Linked DNA regions of Homo sapiens: region 2 is linked to region 1. The links come from fine-mapping of genetic effects on gene expression. A gene starts in region 1. The other region holds a variant in brackets. All regions are shown on one strand. Distances are from middle to middle.

Region 1 (5,372 bases):
ATCACCTGAGGTCAGGAGTTTGAGACCAGCCTGACCAACATGGAGAAACTCCGTCTCCACTAAAAATACAAAATTCGCCGGGCGTGGTGGCACATGCCTGTAATCCCAGCTACTTCGGAGGCTGAGGCAGGAGAATTGCTTAAACCTGGGAGACAGAGGTTGCAGTGAACCGAGATCGCCATTGCACTCCAGCCTGAGAAAAAAGAGCAAAACTCCATCTCAAAAAAAGTCCAAATTCCTTGGCCTGGCATTCAAACATCTAGCACCCAGCACTACCTAATCCTTCAACAGTATCGCCTACATTTCCCTCTCCCAGCTCACTGGACTCCTCCATTCTCTTGCAACAGGAAATTCCACAGGAAAGTTAGAAACCCCAGCACCATAAAAAGGAACAAGGCTACCTTTGCCAACAATCAAAACAAAGGATAAGCGTCCAAATTTCCCATTAAAACCAGTCTCCAGTTGATGATCTAGGCTAACAAATGGCAGAAGAGGCAGGATTTAGGAAAGTCAATGCTGTCAAAAGAAGGGTAAATCATACCCTTCTGTGGCAACTAAGAATTATCATGAATCCCTTCTTTTCTTGAAGTTGCTTTCATTTCTATAGCTCTATTATCTGTTATCTAACAGATCTGGAAATCCTAATCCCCCTTATTGGCCCCATTACTAATATGCCCTTTTACTAGGTTTTTCTTCAATGACAAGCCACCTAGTTCCCACTGGAGAGGAGAAAGGCAGTCCAGTCTGCCAATTCAATTTCAGCCACAACGGGCTCAAAAACAGGTCTTGGCATAAGTGAAAGTCATTTGCTCAAAAAAACCTTCTGGCTTTATTACACTGATAATCTATAACTCTAGTCCATGCCCACTCTTCAGCAAACCACATTCTTCAAAGCATCCATGAAAAATCATTCTAGACCCTAGAGGCTTATGAAGGCAGGGTGACTTCTACATGGAGAAGGCATCTTTTTTAAAATCAGCTTTCAGACCCTGCCTTGCTCCTACTCTTCCAGACCTGGAAACAAAAACATCAAACAAAATTAAATCAAAAGTTCTCATCAAGGTTCCTTCTCCGGGCTGGCTAATAAAAACATATAGTACCGTGGCAGAGGGCGGTGGGTGGGTGGTGGAGAATACTTAGAGCAAAGGGGTAGTGTATCTGGTCGGATGATGGTTAACACATCCTGAAGGCAAGGACGCCACCACAGACAACTAGGTCTTGGTCATCTAGGACAAAAGTCAAAGATGGTAACTAAATATCCAATCAAAAGGCTAATCTGCAACTTCAGTACACAAGTCATTAGATCCTCAGACCTGTTTTAAATTCTAAGAAATATCTCTGGTGTGTCAGAACAATGTAAATGTACAATAAGCATTCTATAGGTCTGTAACTTTAAGCACAGCACCACTGTCACCAGACTTTTTTTTTTTTTTTTTGAGGCTGAGCCTCACTCTCACCCAAGCTGAAGTGCAATGGCACGATCTCGGCTCACTACAACCTCCACCTCCCGGGTTCAAGCGATTCTGCCTCAGCCTCCCGAGTAGCTGGGATTACAGGTGTGTGCCACCATGCCTGGCTAATTTATGTATTTTCAGTAGAGATGGGGTTTCACCATGTTGGCCAGGCTGGTCTTGAACTCCTGACCTCAAGTGATCTGCCTACCTCGGCCTCCCAAAGTACTGGGATTACAGGCATGAGCCACTGTGCCAGGCCTCCAGACAATTCCAATGCTGTATTTTGTCTGTACCCCAACTAGACCATAAACTCTTTACGGATAAAGAACATGTGCCAAAGCTTTTACCATAATGCCTCATATTGGACTGAAAATACAACTGATGACCTGACTGATGATCACACTGAAAAGAAACCATGAATGCTGGCATGTTTTCAAAGTCAAAGTAGCAGGTGATACCAGTGATAGAGGCCACGCCTGTTTTCAGTATTCACTGAATCCCCGTTGGGCAAGAAAAGTCAGATTTTAACAAAAATTGATGGAGACTGTTCTCGCTAAATATAGCAGTCTACAAGGTTACCAAATCCTGGAATCAAAAGGAAAAATAAGGCTAAAATAGAGTTATGTGAACAAAAATTGGGTTCAGGACAGTGAAATAACAGCTTCCTCAACAAGAAAAAAAGTAGTAGCAGCTAAAAGGCAAAATCAAGTAAAGGATGATTCAACAAGAAAAGCACCAGTATTTATATTCTTTGCACTTTCATTGAAACGTTTCACCGGAGATTGGTAATGATTAGGCCAAGATGACAGAGATGATTCAAGGTTGGGTTTTTCATTTGAAAAGTCTACTAATTTTAGAGTTGTGTTAAACCTAAGTTAAAGTTGGAATAGGGTTTTCCCCGGACCAATATTAAGTGAAGTGGATCACCAAGTGGAGTAGCGGCACGAAGGTGGTTTCTTTAGACTTTTAAGTCCAACTCCTACGGAGCCGTTTGGTATTAGGCATATAATCTAAGCTTTCTGAGCCTCAATTTCCCCATTCACAACAAAAGGGCAATGCAGGCTCTTCTCATAACTTCAAGGGGCGGTGGTCTGATATAGAGTACTATGAAAACAAAAGCAGCACACCAAAGTAACACATTATTATTATGATCACTTATAGAACCATTACCCGCTAGGATGAAACTCCCCACACAAGAGATGAAGCCCGAGAGAAAAGAGTTGAAGGGGAAGGTCCCCACGAGGAGACAGTAACCGAACTGCAGCGCCCCGGTCAGCAGTATATACAGCAGGTACGCGTCCAGCAACTTCAGACGCTGCGGAGTGGAGCTCAAGTACTCTTCTAAGAACCGCGAAATGACAGACACTACCGACGCCGACATAACTGCACGCAAGGTACTCCGGTCCGCGCCCCAAACTCTTGGAGGACCCGTCGACCACACCGGATGTGCTGTTTGCGCATGCGCACCCTCGTGACCTAACTCCGCCCTCCCCGGTGTGCCAATTTGCGCAGGCGCTGAGGCCGGCCAGGGCGCGTAACAACTAATGCGCAGACGCGGACTGCATCAACAGACTCAACTACAACTCAGAAAAGTTAATGCGTCTGCGCAATGGCCCTATCAATGAGCTGGGGACGTGTACTCTTTCTGTTCTGTTTCCGCCCGTCAGCTCGGTGACGCCCACAGTTGCTCTGGCAACAAGACACACTGGGAGGAAGAGGGGAATAAGCTTTACTGGGGACCGCGTAGCTAACCAGAGGTATCCGGCTCTCTCTGGTCCTTCTGAGTCCTGGAAGATTTAACGGTTTGCATCTACTTTGAGGCAATGCCTGGCGTTCCTGGGGTTTGATACCAGCCTGACCCTAATTCTGTTAAGGGCGCTGTCTGCAGATGTCTGTCACAGATCATTGGAACAAGTCAAGTTCATCCGCAGTGAGACCCGGCGCGGCCAATCACTGCACAGGCCCCAGTTTAGACTTAATTACTTGGGGGAGTGAGTGGGTGTGGTGAGGGGCGGGAGGCAGGGAGGAAGCCTGACCTCAGCAGGGTTCTGAACTGGAACTCGGGATCTGGCCCTGCAATGCCAACATTTATTGGGCGCCTCCTTGGGGCCTGACGTTGTACTAACTTGTAGGGACTCTCACGTGAATCAGATATATTTGCAGCCTTAAAAGAGCTGGTGAAGGGAGGGACAGCTGTCGAATGTCGTGCAAAAAGCATATGGTCAAGTTTAGCAGCTCTCTTTCCGCAAGCTGGTATCTTGAACCTGGTGTAATATCCCGGGATGTCAGCGTCGAAAGGCCCGAAAGAGCATGCCTGGTTCAACCCTACTCTCTCCAACTCATTTTGCAGAAGAAACTGAAATGGTTTCAGGTTTTGTATTTTAACAAGTGGGATTATTTTGAGGGTTTTAACTGTTTTTTTTTTTTTTTTTGAGACGGAGCCTTGCTCTGTCGGCCAGGCTGGAGTGCAGTGTCGCGATCTCGGCCCACTGCAACCTCCGCCTCCCTAGTAGCTGGGACTACAGGCACGCGCCACCACGCCCGGCTAATTTTTGTATTTTCAGTAGAGACGGAGTTTCACCATTGTTAGCCAGGCTGGTCCCGAACTCCTGACCTTGTGATCCGCCAGCCTCGGCCTCCCAAAGTGCTGGGATTACAGGCATGAGCCACTGCACCCGGCCTGTTTTAACTTTTTTTAAGAAATTAAGTTCTGGCTTTCGTTGCCCTTTTAATTTCACGTGAATCCGACCTTCTAGACCCAGTTCATCTCACCTTTTAGCTGTAAGTTTTTCCACACATGACCAGGTACTTTATTTTCAGCTTCTTAATATTTTGAACTGTACGTGAGCAAAATTCCTAAAACAGCAGGTGAACAACAGCGTTCCTGCCTTTTCACTTTTTTTTTTTTTTTTTTTTGAGATGAAGTTTTGCTCTTGTCACCCAGGCTGGAGTGCAGTGAATGGTGCGATCTCGGCTCACTGCAACCTCCACCTCCTGGGTTCAAGCCATTCTCCTGCCTCAGCCTCCCGAGTAGCTGGGATTAGAGGCACCTGCCACCACGCCCGGCTAATTTTTGTATTTTTAGTAGAAACGGGGTTTCGCCATGTTGGCCAAGCTGATCTTGAACTCCTGACCTCAGGTGATCTGCCTGCTTCAGCCTCCCAAAGTGCTGGGATTATAGGAGTGAGCCACTGCGCCGGCCCCTTTTCACTTTTTATTTGCCTTTAGACTGGAAACTCTACACGCATTAACTAACGGATGTATTATCAGTGGTGATCAAAGCCTTACTTAAGTTCTAGAAAGAAGAGAAATAACCTAAGAAACCTTTAGAGTCTATTTGAATAGATAGATTTATATTCATACCCGTGGAGATTTGTGCAGCTATATGAACATAAGTTCAGCCTAAACCTATGTTGCTGAGAAAGAAAAAAAAAGAGTGGATAACAAGCTGGTTCTTATTTCAATATAATATGGCAGGAAGCATCAATTTCTCTGACAAGTTGAACCTTTCTCTCTGCCTCATCAACAAGTAGGAGGGTAGCTTCCTCACGAATATTCAACTTCAAACTTTACAGGCTAGGCTGATGCTTTTTAATCATTCAGGTGTGGATTCTTCAGGGAGTTTCTGTTCCATCAGCCAGGCTCCTTCCAGTGTTTTCTCCCTTATGTTTTGTCTGCCTTTGATCCATGTCAACTATCATCATTAAGATCTCCCCAGGAACTCTCACAGGAGAGAAGAAGAGATGAAAAACACCAAATGGACTTATTGAATGCATTTGTTTCTGAGACCTGCTAGTCACACCAATATACTACACTAGGGCTTTTCTGAACTACTTAAAACAGCAAGAAAAGGCCTACTTCTCTATTCGGTTTATGATTCTATAATCATTGAAACATTTTTAACTGATCTGTCAATAG
Region 2 (5,380 bases), 890 kb after region 1:
TTCTGGGTCTCACCAAGCCCTGTAGTATCTCTTCCATACTGGGCAATAATCTCCTTAGGTGGGCTTTTATTTTTTGCTTTCCTGAGCTGGAAATCAGCATCATTCACAAAATGAATCTCTGGATTCTGCCTCTAAGGTCCCACAGCTCCTGTTCAGGCTTCCCTAAATAGAACTGGTAAAGTGTCACTTGAAGGAACCATTATCCCATTTCAATTTTATTCCTACTTCTCGTCTTTTGTCCTGGGAAGATATTCAGGGTACTGCCTAGGAGACCCCACCCCTGTGAGCCCTTCCCTCTAGATGTCCTGTTTTCCTGTCCCTTTAGCTTTTCCAACTGTCCTTTGCCTCATTCTTGGTTTCCCTTCCTTTCAGGTTTTCGGAGGCGGCGGTGATTATGGGTGTACATATTTGTATATTTTTTGTCATCCTGAGATACTTCTAATTTCATTGTATATAGGTGGTTTTCCCTGGAATTCATTAATTGTTTGCTTTGGACATGTGGAAAGAGCCTTACTAATAAAATTGATTTTGCTTATGAATTAAAGCCCCTTTTTGCACATGTATTGTACGACTGGAGTCGTTGGGTTTGGGATATTTTTGGTGAGTGGTTGGTGAAAAGGGAAATTTTTTTTGGAAGTGCAAAACATTTGTATTGTTTTCTTTGATAATATATTTTTCCCAAAAACTAAAAATTGGTTACGTCACAAAAAGTATTGAGAGACGAGGCTGGTATAATCAACTCTTTCAACCCATGTTGCCACAACTTCCTGTATGATTTGTTATAATACAATACAGATTGAGATATTAACACATGAATTTTAGGTTTTATTAGTGTTATCTGGGCTGGCCACCAGGTGGCATAAGTGGTTCAAGAAACTTGAGCTTGGCTGTAATCAAAAGCAAGATAGAACCTTTCCACATCAGCAAGATTATTCTTATCTCCACTTCTCTGAATGTTTTTCATTTCTTTCTGAAATAGCATGAACATAAGGCTGATCTTTGGTCAGTTACTGAGGGAGTTTGTAGAAAATAGTAGAGTGAGTAAGAAGGCTAGAGTGAAGAGTCAGTATAGTCTTGTGTTTTTCAGACTCTGACCCCCACCCCCCCGCCTTCAACTGAGGGTCATTTTACCAGAGTCAATAAAGGCCAACCCTTCTATAAAGAGCTGGCAAAAAAAAAAAAAAAAAAAAAATGCCAGCAGACAAGCAGAACATTCCTAGCTTAACAGCCAAACAAATGAAAATCCCACAGAAATAATTAGCCAAACTCAAGCCAGGAGACTGGTGGGCGTTATACATCTGAGATCTTGTATTCTAATGAGAGAATAACCTCTGTTGGTGAGATGTCCCACAGGCCTTGGATAATACAGAAAGTGAAAAAAGGGATTAAAAAAAGATAGAAGTTGGGTCTGTAGAATTAATTCATTGGAGTTTTTAAAAAAGGCTTTGGGTCTCATGAACATCTGATTTTAATGTCTAGTATTGCTGGGTTATATCGATAGACAAATTAATTTGGGTTATATGACTAAAACCTCGTTGATTCTGAATTTCTGAATTTGGATTTATACTATTCAGCCTGATTGGGGCAGGGGTCTTTCACTCAGCTGCCGCTTGGTAGAAAGTAGTTAGGAGACTGGACCTATGGCTGTCTTAGGCTAATTCTGTGATCTTGGGCAAATCACTTAATATCCCTGGCCTTTAATTTTCCTCAGCTAAGGAATGTATTAGACTTCATCTGTGAGATTCCCTTCAAGTCAAAGAGCCTAGAGCTTTTGTGCATGACACCAAGATGGGCTTATGTCTGGGGCCGCTAACCTTTAGTCCCTGATAGATCTGAGAGAGTCTCACATGCCCTGGGCTCTCATACTTCTGTTTCCTCAAGGGAATCTAAACAAAGAGCCACAAGAACAGATTTAGAGACTTTTTTTCCTTTATGGCTGAACTAACTAGATGAGTGATTCAGTTCAAAAATACTTTAGTTAAAACCACTTCATTTGCTTGTTAGGACCACTATATTTGTTTCTAATTTATTAAGATTTGTGGATTATGGGAACTTCCAGGGGAAGGGAAGTGCTCTTTAAAAAACAAAACAAAACAAAACAAAACAAAACAGGTACTACCTTCTGGCCAGGTGTGGTGGCTCATATCTATAATCTGGACACTTTGGGAGGCTGGGTCAGGAGGATAGTTTGAGGCCAGAGAGTTCAAGACCAGCATGTTTAACACAACAAGACCCTGTCTCTAAAAAAAAATAAAAATAAAAAAATTAGGCAGGTGTGGTGGCGTGTGTCTGTAGTCCCAGCTGCTTGGGAGACTGAGGCAGGGGTATTGCCTAAGCCCTGGAGTTTGAGCTTGCTGTGAGCTATGATCTTACCACTGCATTCCAGACTGAATGATAGTAAGACCCATCAAAAAAAAAAAAAAAATTCCTGTGCTATAGGCTGAGCTAAGTGCTTTATACTTAATCCTTATAAATTTTTTTTTTTTTTTTTGAGATGGAGTCTCACTCTGTTGCCCAGGCTGGAGTGCAGTGGCGTGATCTCCGCTGACTGCAACCTCTGCCTCCTGGGTTCAAGCGATTCTCCTGTCTCAGCCTCCTGAGTAGCTGGGACTATAGCCACGTGCCACCAC[A/T]CCTGGCTAATTTTTTGTATTTTAGTGGAGACAGGGTTTCACTGTGTTAGCCGGGATAGTCTCAATCTCCTGACCTCGTGATCCACCCACCTTGGCCTCCCAAAGTGCTGGGATTACAGGTATGAGCCACCACGCCTGGCAATCCTTATAAAATTTATGAAATCTCCATTTTACTAGTGAGGAAGCTTAGACACTTAGGGCAAACAATTTTTCCTGAGTTGGAGAACCAGTGCTTGGGGAACACTGAGGATGGAGGACTTCAAGTGTCCTGTGGTTCATGAAAATCTTCAGGGTTAAAAAATCTTTTTTTATTTGTAGGTGGTTTATAATCTAGCTCCCCCGCCCTACTGCCCCATTTCTGTTACAGGCCTCGTCTTCAAAGAAACCCTAAGTTCCACAATTCTGGTCTCTTTGTGGTATACCAGTGAACACAGCAGACAAAATCCCTGCCTTTGTGGACCTTATATTAATTCAATCAAGTCTTTAATCCCAGGACATTTTGTTTTCCCTGGCTTTTAGGCATTATTTGAAAGAAGTTTCTGGTAAAAAGTTGAACTATTTCTGAGAATATTTGTACCAGAGTCATCAAACACTGTTTAGAGTGTATTGTTTGATGGAGTATTACATGGATTCTCAATATGTAAAACAAGCATAAGTGGGGTTACTTTGATTGAAGTGGGAATGAGGGGTCCTGAAGTTCCATGTTCTTATGACCCCCTTTCCCCAAGATTCCTGAGGAGCCCCCAAGGAACCTTTAGAATTCCTTAGAATATAGTTTGAAAACAACTGTTAGGGTAGTAGAACAAGGGAACTAAGAACTAGAATTTTAGGATTTCGTTATGGCTGTTCTGGTCACTTTTTTTCTTTCCCTTATTCCTACTAATAGATTCAGTTATCTGATTATTCAGACCATATGAATATCGGATTTCCTCAGTGTATTGCTGACAACAGATCATTTCTGGTGTTCACTAAGTAATAGCTGTCATTAATGCACACATGAGCACCTTACCTGTTTGGTTTTATCATGTGATGGTTTTGTCATGTGATAGCTTTATTCTGTAGAAGTAATTTACATCTCTGCCTCATTCTTTTCATCTTAGGGGACAGGGAAGAGAGTTTGACCAAGGTCTGTCTTTGCCTTAAAATCATTGTTTTGTTAGGATTTTATGAAGGCTTGGGGAAATGTCTATTGGGAATTCACAACAGTCTTCATAGATACCTTATTAGGAAAACTGTGTTTTGTTTGCAGGGGAGATTATTAGTGTGTCAATTTTCAGCACCATGGAGAGTTCAAACGCTCCTCATTCCTTGGTTTGGTGAATGGGACACAGCTAAACCATAGAGCTGCGTGGTGTAGACCTGCCCTTTTTCAGAGCCCAGTTTGTCCAGTCTCCAGTTCTGATTGGTACAGATTGGATGAGAGTCAAACACACCCCTGAGTGTCCCCCATCCTCCCTGGAATCTTTTAGGTCCATAAATCCCAGATTCATGCCAAGGATTTGGCTAACTTGATGGAGGTATGTGAGTGGAATCCTGCCTCCTGCTCCATTGGTAACATCATTTATCATTTATATTATGATACATGAAATTTTTACCAGCCCTTAAGAAAAACTCTGTTCCCTACTCATCTTTGCTTAGAGAACCTTGAGGGGACTTAAAGTTGCTTTTTCATTCCTTGGGCCTCGTTTTCTGCCTCTGCATGAGGAAAGGCATCAATGCTCTGGCTCTCTGCCCAGTCTTGCTTTTGTGTTTCTTTGATCTCATTGTTCAGAGGGTCTCAGAGAAGCCCCCAGAGCCATGCCTTTGCATGTTTAAGCTATTGATGCTTTTGAGATGACAGAGCGTCGCTGTGTAAGAAGTGTATTAAAGGTCTATCGTGAACAAACTTGGGTCAATAGGTGGCAGTAGTCACTGAGTCCTGAGGCCCTGACACCCCCTAAACACAAACACATTTGATGGCCATTATATTTAAGGAAGGATGTGAGAAAGGAGGTCACATTGAGATTAAAACGGGGAGAAAAGCAATCCTTTTTGGTGGAATCCAGGAAATGCTGAAATGTGCTGGATTACATCTGTGGGAGTGTTGTGTGGGGTGTAGGGGAAGATTGCTGTCAGCTAGTGAAGGGCACTGATTGGAAACAGCAGAGCCTCAGGATTGGGGGAACAGATTCATTCATCTAAGATGTAGGTGCTAAGGTTTCTTCCAGCTAGAGTAAGCATGTGTTAAATGAGGACCAGCACTGAAAGGACAGAGTGGGGTTGGAGTGAGTAGAGATACAAGTAGGGGAAGGAGGGGCAGAACTGTGTGACGGGACCGTGGAAAGGGTGGGCTGTGAAGGGGAGGACTGCGGTTAGAGGGGGAGGGGGAGGCTGCTGCAATACTGAGCCTATCTAATGGGGGAGGGGAGGGGGAGATATTGGTGTGTGCTGCAGCTGCATTACTTCCCCTCCCCCACACTTCCCAAGAAGCCAGAGCAGTGCTGGCAAATCTGTCTTCATGTATTTATTATTATTAAAAATGTGACAGATCCTTCCTCCCTGGAAGCACAACAAATACTACTGATCACATTTCTCTCTCCCCTCCCTCTGCAGAGCTTTTGCATTCTCTCTTTCATTCCACCCTGTCCTCCCCCACTTGGTCTGTTTGGTGGGGGGAACCCTTCCCTTCTTTCCTTCTTAGACCTTGGTGGCTCCCTGGGGGTTTCTAATGGTGGTTGGGAGTTTTGAGGCAGTGCTGGGAGGAAGCAGCT

What was found. PIP is the estimated chance that this variant, and not a neighbour inherited with it, causes the effect.
Region 2: its variant is the best candidate, but not a certain one, in a credible set for the expression of DAD1 in follicular helper T cells (Schmiedel 2018, PIP 0.76).

What each region holds. Positions count from the first base shown.
Region 1 is chr14:22,586,323-22,591,694 of GRCh38, forward strand. It overlaps DAD1 (defender against cell death 1), which reads right to left and starts at 2,902. Exons shown (of 3, transcript NM_001344.4): 1 at 2,625-2,902. The coding sequence starts at 2,835. RefSeq lists enhancers at 1,899-2,540, 2,541-3,182.
Region 2 is chr14:23,477,635-23,483,014 of GRCh38, forward strand. NGDN (neuroguidin) reads left to right here. Exons shown (of 11, transcript NM_001042635.2): 11 at 373-539. The coding sequence ends at 392. Among named protein-coding and RNA genes, the nearest start is that of NGDN, 11 kb to the left of the region's middle. RefSeq lists enhancers at 4,437-5,194, 5,195-5,380. The variant A/T (reference allele first, on the strand shown) is at 2,631.